2 separate regions of the Homo sapiens genome follow, and region 1 is linked to region 2. Evidence: fine-mapped expression QTL. A gene starts in region 2. The other region holds a variant in brackets. All regions are shown on one strand. Distances are between the middles of the regions.

Region 1 (8,318 bases), 19 kb before region 2:
CTGTTTTCATTTTTCTTGGGTAGATACCTGGGAGTGGAATTGCTGGATCACATGGTAATTTTTATGTTTAACCTTTGGAGGAACTGTCAGACTGTTTCCCACAGGCTGTCTCATTTTACATTCCCACCAGCGGTGTATGAGGGTGCTGATTTCTCTACATCCTCACCAACCACTTGTTATCATCTGACTTTGATTCTGGCCATCCTAGTGGGATCTCATTGTAGCTGTGATTTGCATTTTCCTAACCAGCTCTCCATTTTTTAAAAACAGGTATACCTACCTTTTAAAAAAGTCATTGCTCCCTAGATCTGTTTCATACTATTTAAAAACCCCAAAATGAAATCAGCACTATTTCCACAGGAGCCCATTTGTGAGTAACAAACTTGGATAAGTTACTTTTCTCTGACCTCCCTCACTCCCTTTGTTTTGGATTTTGTTATATGTTGGTTTTGTTTTGTTGTTCTTGGCATTTTCTAGGAGAAGCAACAGTTTCAGCGCCATCTGACCCGCCCACCACCCCAGTACCAAGACCCGACACAAGGCAGCTTCCCACAGCAGGTTGGACAGTTCACAGGTAGGGGGTGTCTGTGTGACGAGCAGGGACAGGGGAGGCCGCTGCCTGGTGCTGGTTGAATCCCTGCTGTCTGCCCAGCTCTATGCCTTGACTTCATCAGGCTGCATGCATTGTCATCATATACACCTCAGTTTGCCTAAGGGGCCTGGTTTTCTAGTTACTCCACGGCATCAGGAGAAGAGGGCACAGAGGCAAACCACTAGAACTACCTTTGCTGGGTCCCTGGCTGTACAGTTTTCTGAAGCAAAATCATTTCTAGTTGGAGGACATCTTATCAGCAGGAAATAGCTTCTGTAATTCTCAAGAAAGTTCTTTGCTTCTGCTTTTATGTGTCTTCAAAAAATGACTCCTATCTTCCAGATAAGGACTTAATGCACTTGCGTGGCCTTTGGCTTCTTTCTCTCCTCCTGTCTGCTCACTTGAATATCACAGATGGCAGCATCACTAGTGGACAGTTGGCCAGAAAAGGGCAGGAAGCACACTTGAGTCTAGCTGTCGCCTCTGAGATGTGCCAGGGAACTTCATAGGCCATCCCTCCAGAAATGCACAAAGATTTCAGGGAATGGATACAGGAAGCTCTGGTCTGCCCGCCTTCCTAGCTCCTCTCAGAATGTCTTAGAAACCTCTGTTTTTCCTTATTTGGGACCTTGCTATAAAGGGTCCCAGAGAGACTGACCACAGCTGTGTGTCCTGGAGGAGACCAGGTACGGTTTTATGTATGTGCTACCTGGGGTCAACGTGGGGTTGAAATCTGCAGGCATTTCAGAAGCATGGGTCTGACCCATGTTTTCTGCCTTCAGACCCATCTGACATTTTGTGGATTATTGATGGGAATGAAATAGCCGGTTTCAGCTCTCCTCTTTTCCTCAACCCAATTTCATTGTTGTTGTTTTGAAACAGAGTCTTGGTCTGTCGCCCAGGCTGCAGTGCAGTGGCACGATCTTGGCTCACTACAACCTCCACCTCCTAGGTTCAAGCGATTCTCCTGCCTCAGCCTCCCAAGCAGCTGGGATTACAGGCGCCTGCCACCACGCCCGGCTCATTTTTGTATTTTTAGTAGAGATGGGCTTTCACCATGTTAGCCAGGCTGATCTCACATACCTGACCTCGTGATCTGCCCGCCTTGGCCTCCCAAAGTGCTAGGATTACAGGTGTGAGCTACCGTGCCCGGCCCCAATTTTTATTATATGGTTGCTAGTAGAGAGGAAGAAGAACAAAGCACTGAGTTACGGCCAATCCCTGAACAATGACTCTCCTACCCACAAAACCTAATTCAGTTAATGGTGTTGTCATATGTCCATTGCTTAAGCCAGGAGGCCTAGACAGCAGTTCCCTGAGCATAGGGGTGCTTTCTCTTCCACCCTCTGCTGTCTCTCCAGCACAGCACCTGCCACAGAGTGGGTACTCAGTGAAGATCTGGTAATTTCCTGCGACTCCTCCCTCCTTTGGCCACCTTGTCATTTCATAGTATAAATGGTGTGCCATAAGATGGTATATTGTCTGGTGAGATGTTGTCACACAGTTCTGCACCTCCACCCCCCATTCCCACATGGTCTGCCCTCCCTCATCTCCGTGACTGAACAGCCTCTCCCCAGCATGGTCTCAGCCACACTCTCAGTCCAGCCACTCTTGGGCTTTACAACCCTGTTCTTTGTTTGTTTGTTTGAGACAGAGTCTTGCTCTTTCGCCTAGGCTGGAGTGCAGTGGCATGATCTCGGCTCACTGCAGCCTCCGCCTCCCGGATTCAAGCAATTCTCCTGCCTCAGCCTCCCGAGTAGCTGGGGGCGCGCGCCGCCACGCCTGGCTAATTTTTGTATTTTTAGTAGAGACAGGGTTTCACTATGTTGGCCAGGATGGTCTTGATCTCCTGACCTCGTGATTCGCCCGCCTCGGTCTCCCAAAGTGCTGGGATTACAGGCGTGAACCACCGCGCCCGGCCACAACCCCGTTCTTCACACGCCATCCACAGCTCTTCCCTATCTGGCCGGAACTAGCTCTTCCATTTTATCTCTAACCAGCTGGCCACTGTCTGCATATCCCGGCCACGGCCAGTCTCTGAAAGTTCCCCACACAGATGCCTTTTTCTGACTCTGCCTTTGCACACACTTGCCTGGAATGCTCTTTTTCCCCAAACTGTTAAATTGCTAAACTTCTGTGCTTTTAAACCTAGTGGATTCATCACTGTCTCTCTCAAGCCTTGCCCAAGGCTTCCCAGATGCCAGGGCTTCCAGCCTGCACCCTGCAGCCTGCTGGCCAGGCGCGCCCCATCGCGCCCCATTGCGCCCCATCGTGCCATGTGCTAACTTTGCCTCCCAGAGGCGGATCTTGCGTTGGGTCCACCTCAGAGTCCCCGGTGCCCACCACAGGGTCCCCACAGAGCAGAAATTTGGTGGGTGCTTGAAAGTTAGATGAAGTAGGTCACTGGTTTTCTCTCCCCTGGGGCTTTGCCCTTCCTCTGTGCCTTTCTGAACCCCATCATTGTTTCAGAGACCAGGCCTCCATTCCACCTGTGGAAGGCTTTCTGCCCCATGGCCCCCGGGGCCCTCTTCCCAGTGTGCCGTGAACGTGAGACTTCTGGTGCTGCGGCTCGAGTCTCAGAGGGACCCAGTGGTGGTCGACTCCTGACTGCCAGACTCTTCTCTGTCTTGTAGGGTCCTCTGCTGC[C/G]GTGCCCGGCATGAACACCTTGGGTCCATCCAACTCCAGCTGTCCTCGAGTGTTCCCTCAGGCTGGGAATCTGATGCCAATGGGCCCTGGACATGCTTCAGTTTCCTCTCTCCCCACAAACTCAGGCCAACAGGACCGGGGTGTGGCTCAGTTCCCTGGCTCCCAAAACATGCCTCAGAGCAGCCTCTATGGCATGGCTTCTGGCATAACCCAGATAGTTGCCCAGCCCCCGCCACAGGCCACCAATGGACATGCCCACATTCCACGGCAGACCAACGTGGGCCAGAACACCTCCGTCTCAGCTGCCTATGGGCAGAACTCTCTGGGAAGCTCTGGCCTCTCCCAGCAGCACAATAAGGGGACCCTGAACCCTGGTTTAACAAAGCCACCGGTCCCAAGGGTGTCACCAGCCATGGGAGGCCAGAATTCCTCCTGGCAGCATCAGGGAATGCCGAACCTCAGTGGCCAGACCCCAGGGAACAGCAACGTGAGTCCCTTCACTGCAGCCTCCAGTTTCCACATGCAGCAGCAGGCCCACCTGAAAATGTCTAGCCCGCAATTCTCCCAGGCAGTGCCCAACAGGCCCATGGCTCCCATGAGCTCAGCAGCTGCCGTGGGGTCCTTGCTACCCCCAGTGAGTGCACAGCAGAGGACCAGCGCCCCTGCCCCAGCACCACCCCCAACAGCCCCTCAGCAGGGCTTGCCTGGCCTGAGCCCAGCAGGGCCTGAGCTGGGGGCCTTCAGCCAGAGCCCTGCCTCACAGATGGGCGGTCGGGCGGGGCTGCACTGCACCCAGGCCTACCCTGTGCGGACCGCGGGCCAGGAGCTGCCTTTTGCCTATAGCGGGCAGCCAGGTGGCAGTGGGCTCTCTAGTGTGGCTGGACACACCGATCTGATCGACTCCCTGCTGAAGAACAGGACTTCAGAGGAGTGGATGAGTGATTTGGACGACCTGTTAGGGTCTCAGTAATGGAAGGATTTGTAGTGTTTTTAGTGTTCATTCATCCTATATTTTTATTCTCAGATTCAAAGAAAGAGCAACTACTTTGGACCAAAAGCCCATGGCCTGGGGAGCTGGGCAGGTAGAGCCCAAGCTCCAGGTGAGGCCTGGCCCTGGGCAGGGTCTGTGGCTGCGCCCCTCAGGCCAGCAGTTGAGGTCCATCGGGCTGGCCCCAGCCCATCTGCTGGCATCAGTACCTGGTGTTGGGACAGCAGGATAGGGTTCTAAAGGTGGTTTTCTATCCAAACGACCAAAAAACCAACAGTAACACCAGTGAAACCCCACACTGTCGGGCTTATAAAAATCTGTGCCATCATGGTGATTTTATCCAAGACTGCTCCACTTACCCCAGTGCTGGGGACAAGTTTCTGTTGAAACTTTAGATAGCAGAATTATTTGCAATTTGTAGCATAGAAAAGATTTTTAAATTTTTTTACAAAAGGTTTTTAAACAGATTAGGGTAGGTGATGGTTTAAATCAATTAAGTGGCATTGGAAACCTAGGGTTTCCTTTTGATTAAGAGCCTTTTTTGTTTCTGCTCTTTGTCAGCTTTCAGGGGAGAAGGAGGCCACTGGAAAATTATTTCCCTAAGTGCAGGCTGTTGACTGCGTATGCCAAAAAGGGACAGGAGGCATGGGATAGCAGGTCTGGTGACACAGCTAGGGTCTTCCTAGCAGCTCCTCCTCCTCCCTCCCAAGGCCCCCAGGAATCCCTTCCTCCCATGTCCTGGCAGCAGGACCCCAGGCTACATATGGAAGGTAGAGATGTGGGGGTCCTGTATCCTGGAGTATTATGTCTCCCCACCTTCTGCAGTTTTCTCTGAACATGTATGTTGCCCATGGTGGGAGCGTGGTCACTGTGCAGTTGTGCACAGATGTCTTTCCTTTACCGTTGGCCTTTCTGTCTGCCTCTCCTTCCTCTCTGCAGCCCAAATGGAAAACAATTATTTACTCCATTGGAGGGAAAGGAAGAGTCTTAGAATTCCTAAGGGAACCTTAGCATAAAGGTTTTGGGGAAGGAGGCCGTAGGCCGGCCCGGAGGAAGCAATTCCACTTGGTTTGACAACTTCTGCCACTCCCATGTCAGATGACTTGCACTTCTTAAAGAGATTGCTTTATAACACTAAGACATCCTTTCTAAAGATTCAAGTGGACTTGACTAAGCTGAGGGTCCACGAAATAGAATATGACATGTGAGCTGTTTTTGGAAAACGAAGATGGAGAGAGCACTTCCCCGTAACGAAAGCAAAGTGGTAAGCACAGGGTGAGACCCTTTTACACAGAATGGTGGAGAGAAAAGAGAATGCTGAAAAGTGGCTCAGATGCAGAGTGTTCTGTGGAGAAACTGCAGCCCCACTTCTGTTTCCCTGGAGTCTCCCAATGGATCATTCAGGAGTGTCCTATGTGAGAATTGAGCCAAGGAAAATACTCATGCAACCAGCCTGAGTCGCGGTGAGGGGACGAGAGGTTGTACACACATTGGTAGTTATTTTGCACCAGCAGTGCCTTTCTCACTGGGGGTACTTGGACCCTCAGATCTTCTTTTCTAATAGCCATTTGCCACCCCAAGTGGTATGTCGGCCATTTCTCCTTAAAACACCTTCCCTACCTTTCCCATGTACTCAGTTTAGCTCTCAAAGAAGGGGTGAATCATAAAGCCAGTGAAAATTTCACCCTCTGAGGGAGTTCCCCAATCTGAAGGGGAAGAGGGTGACCTCAGCGGCTTTTCTCCCAAAAATCGGCTGAAGGCTGGTTGTGGATCCTTGTTCCTCTCCTGACCCCATCTGGCTGCTGCCCCGTCTCCCACCCCTGTCCCCGGGGCTCGCTGGCCCTGCACTCCGCCTTAGTCCTGGGGCCGGCGACACAGTGGGGGCTCCTCACTTGCTGCAGTGTCATAGCAATAAAATGTGATTCTTGGGGTCCCCCCAGGGAGCTGCCCATGGCTTTATTTATGAACCTGGTTTTCGGGAGTCAGGGGAGGAGATGACTTTGCTTCTGTGCACAGCCCCGTCTTCCAGGAGCCACAACTCAGAAGAAAAGGGTGCTCAGACTTTTGTTATACACATTTGCTTTGTGTAAATAAATGTTTACAATTTTATATGAAAGATGGAATAAGCGCTAGAGCTTCCAACTGTATATTTTTTACTTTTATAGATTTTAAAACTATGATCCTTTATATGTGTGTTTTGGGGGAGCTATGATAAGTTTTATGGCAAACGGTTGGTATTGTTAACTTTTTATTGTCATCAAAAGTTCATAAAAGTCCTATTAATCCCCATATTCTTCTACTGCCCTTAACTCTGGTATACACCAAAAAGAAATCTTTACTTTCCTTGTTTTATCATTATAAAAATAAAGTATTTTGCTAGTATGGAAACAACCTTTGTATTTGACGTCACCTGGGGTCTGCTGGCAGAAGTTTGGGGATTGGTTTTCTTTTGTAATTTAGCTGCTTGCTTTTCTTGGTTTTTTAATTTTTTCTTTTTAAAGAAATGCTTGTCGAGTCATAGATTTAGCTGCTTTCTTATTGCACATTGTTGGGTGGGAGCTGGTTTGGTTGAAGCCTCAGAGGAGCTTCTGTTATCTGCTGATAGATACTAAATTAGAGCTAGCATCACCCTGAGAAAGCAGGCTGGCCCCAGGACTCACGGGCGTCCATGCAGCTGATGGAGGGGAGCTGGACCGGACGACTGTGCTCTCTTAGCTCTAGCATCACCCTGAGAAAGCAGCCTGTCTCCGGGACTCACGGGCATCCATGCGGCTGATGGAGGGAGCTGGGCCGGACGACTGTGCTTCTCGTGCTTCATGTAGAACCCTTAGGTTTGCCCCTGAAGTCTGTCTGCTCCATGTACTATTTAGTTGCTTTTCAGCATAGAGCTTGGTTTTCCCTTTTTTTAATTGTAAGAATGATGTGCTCTGGCATGTCACACTGTGAAAGGGGACCAGATGATGGAGCCTGGACTGAAAGGGTGAATGGGGCCGCTCACCTCAGAACTCTCCCTGCTTTGCTTTGCTGGGAGCAGGGAGCAGGGCAGCCTGGGAGAGGCTGGAGTTCCTCAAAGGGCAGAGAAGAATGGCCTTCAGGGGACCACAGGGAGGAACCATGCCATGATAGACTCAAAAAGCTAGATTATGCTAATAAAAAGGGGAAGACATCTGTGACACACAGGAAACAGTGTTCGTGGCCTTGCCATAGAAGGCGCAGTAAAGGAGGAAAACTCCGGAGACTCCCTGTGAATTCTTGGCTAAGAATGCACGTTATCTGCAGTGATCTAAAAACACAAACGAGAACAGAAGTGAGTGGCCCTACCTGTGAGATGCACAGTGCTGAGCGGCACCCAGCGCTGGCTGCAGGATGGGAGGCTGGCTGCCGTATGATTGTTCGTGGGAAGAAATTTTGTAGAAGTTATCAAGCTCCTTAAAATGTTCGTGCTGTGTCTGCCTGGACAGTTGCAATTCTGAGAAGCGATCCTTGAAAATGATTCTGGGTATAGAAAAAGGTACAGCACAGTGGTGTTCTTAGTATGGCTGTTTACAGTCGCAGAAAATGAGATGCTAAACTGCTGCCCTAGGGGATTGGTTAAGCAAACTGGTGCTTCCACTCCATGAGATAGGATGCAGCCATTTGAAATATTTATGAAGGTTTTGGACAGTCATTTGGAATAATGGTTTTGTTGGGGCTCTTAACTTGCAAGCCAATAGAAAAGAAATCTGGCTAATATAATCCTATAAATTATTTCCCTACAGCCCATTTTTAAGGTTCCCAGTAACTTTCAGAATCAAAGGAGACATCGGATGGCCAGGCCTCAGTAGTGGCAAGGCCCAGGCAGTTCCAGATCCCTGCAGCCTGCCACTACCCCGAGTCTCTCCAGGTCACCAGCCAGGCTTGGGGGTGATGGAGGAGGACTCGGTAAGGGACAGTTCACTTGGCAAATGTTTAGGGAGCACCTGCTGTGGCCAGGCATTGCCCTAGAGGCAGGGAATATGATAGAAATTGCGGCAGTACAGGAAGGTAAGGTCCCTGTACCGCAGAGCTCACAGTCTCATGGGAAGGAGTTCTTACACAGGTGAGGTAAGTGTT
Region 2 (8,318 bases):
TTATCAGCAGCGTGAAAACGGACTAATACACTGGGCATGGTGGTGCACGCCTGTAATTCCAGCTACACAGGAGGCTGAGGCAGGAGAATTGCTTGAACCCAGGAGGCGGAGGTTGCAGTGAGCTGAGATCACGCCATTGCACTCCAGCCTGGGCAACAGAGTAAGACCCTATCTCAAAAAGAAAAGAAAAGCTGGGTGCAGTGGCTCACGCCTGTAATCCCAGCACTTTGGGAGGCCAAGGCGGGTGGATCACAAGGTCAGAAGATCGAGACCACCCTGGCTAACACAGTGAAACCCCGTCTCTACTAAAAATACCAAAAAATTAGCCAGGCGTGGTGGCGGGCGCCTGTAGTCCCAGCTACTCGGGAGGCTGAGGCAGGAGAATGGCGTGAACCTGGGAGGCGGAGCTTGCAGTGAGCCGAGATGGCGCCACTGCACTCCAGCCTGGGCGACAGAGCTAGACTCTGTCTCAAAAAAAAAAAAAAAGAAAGAAAGAAAGAAAGAAAAGAAGAAGAACAGAGAAGCAGAGAGAAGCCAGGCCAGCTGCCCCAGTAAAGACTCAGGTTCTCACGATCCCAGGCCACTTCCAGACTGAATCAGTTCTCAGCTGTACAGCAGGTGATCTCTGCCCTACAGGGATCTGCACCCATTTACTCAGGAAACTGTCTTCTTACTATCCAGTTTTGAGAGTTTTTATATATTTTGAATTCAAAGTATTTTTTTAATCATATATATGATTCACAAATGTTTTCTCTAAGTCTATGGTTTAATTTTTCTATTTTTTTATTTTTGAGACGGAGTCTAGCTCTGTTGCCCAGGCTGGAGTGCAGTGGCGCGATCTCGGCTGACTGCAAGCTCCGCCTCCCTGGTTCACGTCATTCTCCTGCCTCAGCCTCCAGAGTAGCTGGGACTACAGGCGTCCACCGCCACCCCCGGCTAATTTTTTGTATTTTTTAGTATAGACGGCGTTTCACCGTGTTAGCCAGGATGGTCTCGATCTCCTGACCTCGTGACCTGCCCACCTCGTGCTGGGAGTACAGGCGTGAGCCACCGCGCCTGGCCCTCTCTGTGCCTTTTTTTTTTTTTCTTTTCTTTTCTTTTTTTTTTTTGTTGGAGACGGAGTTTCGCTCTTGTTGCCCAGGCTGGAGTGCAATGGCGCGATCTTGGCTCACTGCAACCTCTGTCTCCTGGGTTCAAGCAATTCTCCTGCCTCAGCCTCCGGAGTAGCTGGGATTACAGGCATGCACCACCATGCCCGGCTAATTTTGTATTTTTAGTAGAGACAGGGTTTCTCCATGTTGGTCAGGCTGGTCTTGAACTCCCGACCTCAGGTGGTCCACAACCTCGGCCTCCCAAAGTGCTGGGATTACAGGCGTTAGCCACCATGCCCAGCCTGGCACAATTTAGCATAAAGTTTTTGAGGTCTTTGTACTATTCCAGTAGGACAGTTGGTGAAACTTGAATAAGATCCGTAAAATACTTGATTACTAACTTGTATCAATGGAAATCTCTTGGTTTATAACTGAATTTTGGTTATACAAGTTTTTTTTTTTTTTTTTTTTTTTTTTTTTTTTTTTTTTTTTTTTTTGAGACACAGTCTCGCTCCGTCGCTCAGGTGTGATCTTGGCTCACTGCATCCTCTGCCTCCTGGGTTCAAGCAATTCTCCTCTCTCAGCCTCCCAAGTGGCTGGGATTATAGGTGCCTGCTACCACGCCTGACTAATTTTTGTATTTTTAGTAGAGATGGGGTTTCACCATGTTGGCCAGGCTGACCTCAAACTCCTAACTTCAGGTAATCCGCCCACCTTAGCCTCCTAAAGTGTTGGGATTACAGGCATGAGCCACCGCGCCTGGCCGAGACTGTAGATTTTTGCAACTTTTTTGTAAGTCTAAAATAATTTCAGCCAAGCATGGTGGCTCATGCCTGTAATCCCAGCACTTTGGGAGGCTGAGGCAGAGGATCACTTCAGCCCAGGAGTTTGAGACCAGCCTGCAACATAGCAAGACTCCATCTCTGGAAAAAAAAAAAAAAAATTAGAGCCTGTGGTCCCAGCTACTTGAGAGGCTTGAGGTGGGAGGATTGCTTGAGCCCGGGAGTTTGAGGATGCAGTGAGGCATGTTGAGCCACTGCACTCCAGCCTGGGCAACAGAGCACGATCCTGTCTCAAATATAAAATAATTTCTAAATAAACTTTCTTGTTCAAGCTCAGGGTCTGAGTTGTGCACTGCCTATGATCCACTCCACAGAAGTTCTGATTTCTTCTCTGTGCAATGGTTCTGCCGGCCTTTCTGCCGCCCAGAGGTCCTGGTGAGTGGGCATCAGAGACTCCTTAGGGCTCTGTGGAGGCTCAGGGAGGAGCTTTCGCTTCCCTCCTGATGCTGGTGCCTCCAGAGCTAGACAGGAAGATGGAAGCTGGGTGGCCCGAGCAGGGGTGGGGGCTTGGCTGGCCCTCCTGTCAGCTTGAGCTGGCTTGAGCCCAGGCAGGGCCCTGACAGCCTGGGCAGGCTCAGAGGGAGGGAGGTGGGAACCAAGAGACCCGGGGAGGGCTCCCGGGGCCAAGACCCAGGTCCCTGCCCTGCACATCTGCCAAGGGACTTCCTCAGAAGCTGCTGATGTTAGGCTTTGGCTTCCTGCTGTGGACTGAGGGGATGAACTCCGACGGGAGGACATTCAGGCCTTGGAGGAAATGAGAGCTTGGCTGACAGGAGGGCCTGGACTCACGAAGACACTTGGACACCCACAAGCACAGAGACATGGGTGTGTGACAACTGACCAAGGGGCATGCAGGTATGTATGCGTGGTGCACACAGACACCCTGGGCACAGCCCACTGGCACCAGCGTCAACCCCTGCGTGGTGGGCTGCATCCCACCCTTCAGGCAGGCCCTGTGGGGCAGGTTTCAGGGAGGAAGGAGGCTGAGTGGGCAGAGTCTGAGGACGCGGCCACCATCGCTCCCTGGCACTACATCTGTGTCCGGGATCTAGGAGGCAGTCCTCCATCACTGAGCCCCAAGATGACTGTCACAGCTTGGTCTAAAGCAGGGGCCGGGCCTGAGCCCTGGCCCCTGCCCTGGAGGAGCTCACAGAGCCCCCAGCTGGGGCATATCTGGTTTCCGGGGGCAGGGGCGATACCCAGAGGAGGAAGAAGGGATTCTGAGAGAGCCCAACAGGCTCCGAGCCTCAGGCTGGAGCTGAGCTTGGGGCAGCAAGGAAGGACCAGGTGCGAGGGCAGAACCATGCGGCCCGACCCCTGCAGCACGGCCTGTGGCCTCCCCCAGCTCCTGCCCGTGCTTCTGGGTCAGTCTGGACTTTGCCACTTCTGACCAAAAGCCACCGCAAACCCACTCAAGCCAAAAGAGGAAGTGACCGTTAGGCCCAACTGGGAAGGCTGGCGGCCAGGGGCACTCCAGGCAGGGCGAGGGGGGCGGCCGGGGGCGCTCCAGGCGGGGCGAGGGAGACACCCAGAACTCCAGGCAGGAGTCCTCGGGTGCCACCTTTCCTCTCCACCTGGCCCTGCGTGGGCTCTGTCCTCAGGGTGGCCCGCCGTAGTCCCCCTCCCCACTCTGAGTTTCCTGTCCCAAAGTCCTAAGGAAGTTTCCAGAACTACATCTCACCATCTTGAGTCAGCCTTGGCTCAGTGTCCATCTCACAGGCCTGGAAGGGGCAGGAGTCAGCACTGTCCAGACCACAGGGCCTGAGTGTGGGGAGGGCAGCCGTCTAGGAAGGTGGTGGAGGGTTGTTACCTTGAGGCAAGAGGGCTGCGGGGCAGAAAGACACAGCAGGTGACTGTTGTGGGAGGCCCAAGAGAGGCCTGGGAGAGGGATGGCCCACAAGGGCTGACCCTCCCGCCACCCAGGGGGCCTTGGACAGGTTTCCTCCTGGCAGGGTGGCCCTTGTGCATGGAACCCCTACAACGACTAAGGCTGGCAGGCATGAGGTTTCCTGAAGGAGAAAGAGCTTGTGGGGCCCAGTGTGGCTGGGGGGGCGCTGGGACTCCATTCTGAAGCCAAAGGCACTGGGAAGGGCTTCCGCAGAGGAGGGTTTGGCAGGGGTTGCCAGGAACAGCCTGGATGGGGACAGGGAACAGATAAGGTGGGTGGAGGAGTTAGCCGGGAGCCTGGGGCTGGCTCCAGCATGATGTGGGGGTCTGCAAGGCCCTGGAGAAAGTGGGGTGGTGCAGCAGGGGGCACACCCACAGCTGGAGCTGACCCAGATGGACAGCTTGGGCTCTGCCACGCGGGACTAGGCAAGGAAGGGGCACGAACAAGCAGGAAGTGGTGAGGCGGTCTCCAGCTAGCTGCTCTCCCCTGCCCAGACTTTGGTTTCCTCCCTGCTGGCTTGGCCTGGCTCCCTGGCTCTGTGTGGTATGGTCACACCCCCGTGCACCCCCTCCACTGAGATGGGGCGGGGAGAGCACCGAGGCTGCTCTTCCTCTCCTGGGCCGTCCTCTGAGCAGCAGACGGGGCTAAGCGTTCCCCAGCTCGCCTTCACACACAGCCCGTGCCACCACACCGACGGTACCATGAAGGACGAGGTAGCTCTACTGGCTGCTGTCACCCTCCTGGGAGTCCTGCTGCAAGGTGGGCTGGTTCCTATCTAGGAAGAGGGTGGGCCTTAGATCCCTACAGCTTGCCCTCTGCCCCCTAGGCCCAGGTGGAGGGCAGAGGTGGGGACTCCAGCCCAGGCCCAAGCTGGAAGAGGGTGGGGACTTTCAGGGAACTGGGGGGCACCTGGCTGTGAGAGCTGTAGGACTTGGGGGTGGCAAGGGTGCCAGGACAAATGGTAGGATAGCCATGGGCTTGGGGAAGCTGATCTCTGCTCTTTCCAGCTGTCCCCTCTCTGGGCGTCCCAGCAAGCGGCCCCCATTCCCTGGCTCTGCTTCAAAGGCACCTCCATACTGGGACCACGTGGAGCAGGGTAGAGGTGGGACTCCTTCCTCCAGCCCCCTAAAAAGAGCCTGCTTAATGCCTTTCTCAGACTGGCCCTAAAGGACACATTCCTTGGCCAGATATCCTTGCCACCTAAGAGACACCACTACTCCACAGTGTGTGGGCTAGGATAAGGCACAGCCTGGGGAGGGGGCTCTGAAGGGGCTGAACAGACAGGCCAGCCTGACCTCCAGCTGCTCCTGCACTGAGCTGGATGGCCACCCTGTGACACCCATCTGCAGAGGGCCCAGAACCAAAGGTGCCAGGGCTGCAGGACTCAGGGGGAGATGGTCCGACGGGAGGTCTGGGGAGGGAGCGCACAGCCAGCACTGGTCTGTGTGTGGTCTGGCCTGGCCTCACCTGACCAAGAGAAGGGCTCCTGCCCACAGAGAAACTTTAGGGCCAGCCCACCCTCTGCAACTACCCCAGCCCTGGGGTCCTGGGGTTAGGCTAGGAGAGTCCCAGCTGCAACCTCCTGGGAGCAGGAGAGAAGGTGTCTGTCAGATTTAGGCCTGGGACCGGAATGCAGGAACAGAGAAACTGAGGTTTGGAGGCACAGGGACGCAGGCTTTAGTGATCCCGGCCTGAGGCAGGGTCAGAGGGCCCTGCTGGTGGGCGCTGGTAGGTGGGTGACCAGGGACTGTTAGCTACAGGGAGTGTGCTTCCTTGCACCTGGGAGGATGCAGCCAGCTCTGCCCTCAGACTCCCGAGGCACTTCCTGGCCAGGGACCTGAAAGCTGCATTTGCCTGTGTTTTGAGAGTGAAATGATTCAGAAACAAGGACTCAAGTGGTCTCTCTCGCGGAGCAGGTGTCCCTGTGCCTGAATCACTCACCCTCCCCCATACACTCACAGGTTGGGACAGGGCCTCTCTGCGCCCCAGGCTTCAGCCCTGCCCTCCTCGCTGAATGTCAGGGACACAGGGCAGGCCAGGGATGGGTGAGACGAGAGGTCTCCTCGGGCGGGGAGGGGGCGGGGTTCCGCCTTAGGGAGGAGAGGACACGGCCAAGTGAAGGGCCAGATTGCAGGATCCCTCCCACTCCCATCTCTGGGGCTTCGGGTGTCCAGACCTGACTCCCGCTCCCCCTCCTCCCCCAGCCTACTTCTCCCTGCAGGTGATCTCGGCGCGCAGGGCCTTCCGCGTGTCGCCGCCGCTCACCACCGGCCCACCCGAGTTCGAGCGCGTCTACCGAGCCCAGTGAGGCGCGGCGGGAGGGCGCGGGGCGGGGAGCGAGCCCCAGGCGGGTCCGGGTCGCAGGACCATCCCGGCCGGCGCGCTCATCCCACCCGCCCACCGCAGGGTGAACTGCAGCGAGTACTTCCCGCTGTTCCTCGCCACGCTCTGGGTCGCCGGCATCTTCTTTCATGAAGGTCGGGGTGTGGGGCAGGGGCGCACGCGCTGGACCCCCGGGACCCGCGCAGGGCGCTCACCAGGCCCGTGCGTACCTCTCGCAGGGGCGGCGGCCCTGTGCGGCCTGGTCTACCTGTTCGCGCGCCTCCGCTACTTCCAGGGCTACGCGCGCTCCGCGCAGCTCAGGTGAGGGCCGGGCGGGGAGCGGGGCGGGGCCGGGGAAAGATCGCGGGCGGGCGGGGCTCCTGGGGAGCGGGACCGAAGCTGGGGGCGGGCGACGGGCCGGAGCCCAGCGCCTTTGGGGATTCGGTGGGCGAGCCCTGGCGGCGGCCAGAGGAAGTCCCCGTGGGGCCAGGGTTGCGGCGGGGAAGAAGCGGGCCTCCTCGCGCCACCTCCCCGCTGACCGCCGCCCGCAGGCTGGCACCGCTGTACGCGAGCGCGCGCGCCCTCTGGCTGCTGGTGGCGCTGGCTGCGCTCGGCCTGCTCGCCCACTTCCTCCCGGCCGCGCTGCGCGCCGCGCTCCTCGGACGGCTCCGGACGCTGCTGCCGTGGGCCTGAGACCAAGGCCCCCGGGCCGACGGAGCCGGGAAAGAAGAGCCGGAGCCTCCAGCTGCCCCGGGGAGGGGCGCTCGCTTCCGCATCCTAGTCTCTATCATTAAAGTTCTAGTGACCGAGACCCGGGCTGCGTTCTCTGGGTCCGCGGGGGTGGCGCACCGCGGGCTACGGAGCCTGGAGGGGCCCAGCCCGAGTCCGGGCAGCCCGGGGCGGGCTTCCTAGTGGCGGCGTGAGAGTGGCTGCGAAGGAACGAGCCCTCCCCCTGGGGCGGGACTGGATCCGGTCTTCACCTCCTACCCCACTCCCTACTCAGCCTCGGGGTCACAAGGCCGCCCAGTCCTGCCGGGGTTCACCCTCCTAGCGCTCAGCGGTCTCCTCACCGGTCCCCCTCCTCAGGGGCCTTCCCTCGACTCTCAGCCGCCGCAGTCCCTCGTCCCCTGGCCTTCACAGCTGACACTAGATAGAGCCTGTGGCTCTCTCCCCAGGTGAGGGCAGGGGTTTTTCTTTTGGTCAGCACTGGATCCCCCTCGTTAACTGTAGGTGTTCAGGGCAGCCCTCCGAGGTCCGCAGAGCTGCGGGCACCATGGGAACGAAGTGAGTCAGTGACAGGCGGTCTCAAGGAAATGTCCAGAAGCCTTGGGGATCCAGGGGAGGCCCACAGAAACAAAGAAGTGACTTTTAGCCAAGTATGCAGGAGAAACGGAGAAAGGAGAGCTTTCCAAGGAGGGGCAACAGTGTGTGCAAAGGCCCTGAGGTGAGCGGGAGACCCTAATGTGCCAGAGGAGTGTCGGGGACCCAGGATGAGGACCAAGCTGAGACACACGGAGGGGAACAAGGAGGCTGGGAAATGCCTTCAGCTTGAGGAGCTAAGGGAAGGCCTCATCGCAGGCCTTGGACATGGGGGAGACATTCGGGGGACCTGCTATAGGCATTGTGGTCCCAGATTCTGAGCTGGTTTCACCAGTGACAGACTTTGCGGCCTGATCCTAGGAAGGGGGGTACGCTGGCGCCGAGGTGGCACTGCAGCTGCACAGCCAGGGGCTGGACCCCGCGCCTGCAGGCCAGGCTGGCTCCTTGACTTAGCAGGGAAAGGTCGCTGCTGATGCTGGCTGGGGAGGCCCAGTGCCAGGCTTAGTTGGCATGTTGGGGCACAGACCAAATGAAGCCAACCGCAGGGGCAGAGGGAGATGCCCAGGGCGCTCACATTTGAGGCACACACTTCATTAACCCTTTATTACAAGTCACGCTCTTATAGAAGTATATGTGGACTTACGTGAAAAAATCAAATGTATCCAAGAATAAAAAACACAGCACATAAAGTAGTATATGCATTCCAGTGTTCGCGCCAGAGACGGCGGGCGCCCAAGTAAAAGCTCTTCTAAAACGGCCTGACTGGGGCAGGCCGGGTGCGAACGGTTCCGGGCCTCAGGCACAGTGTGGGGGCCGCCTGCCTCCTCCGCGGCCCGGCGGGCGGGGGCAGCACCA

What was found.
Region 1: its variant is fine-mapped to the expression of LTC4S in whole blood (INTERVAL, PIP above 0.99). The same link has a PIP of 0.9 or more in cerebellar hemisphere, cerebral cortex, skeletal muscle and tibial nerve.

What each region holds. Positions count from the first base shown.
Region 1 is chr5:179,770,670-179,778,987 of GRCh38, forward strand. It overlaps MAML1 (mastermind like transcriptional coactivator 1), which reads left to right. Exons shown (of 5, transcript NM_014757.5): 4 at 478-574; 5 at 3,226-6,614. The coding sequence ends at 4,208. Among named protein-coding and RNA genes, the nearest start is that of LTC4S, 19 kb to the right of the region's middle. RefSeq lists a silencer at 2,486-2,686. The variant C/G (reference allele first, on the strand shown) is at 3,239.
Region 2 is chr5:179,789,559-179,797,876 of GRCh38, forward strand. LTC4S (leukotriene C4 synthase) reads left to right here and starts at 4,428. Exons shown (of 5, transcript NM_145867.2): 1 at 4,428-4,580; 2 at 6,026-6,125; 3 at 6,228-6,298; 4 at 6,383-6,464; 5 at 6,695-7,089. The coding sequence starts at 4,523. The coding sequence ends at 6,836. It overlaps MGAT4B (alpha-1,3-mannosyl-glycoprotein 4-beta-N-acetylglucosaminyltransferase B), which reads right to left. Exons shown (of 15, transcript NM_014275.5): 15 at 8,052-8,318. RefSeq lists enhancers at 3,616-4,243, 3,818-3,897, 3,918-4,067, 5,551-6,223 and silencers at 4,418-4,487, 6,033-6,742, 6,783-6,832, 6,853-7,012, 6,857-7,068.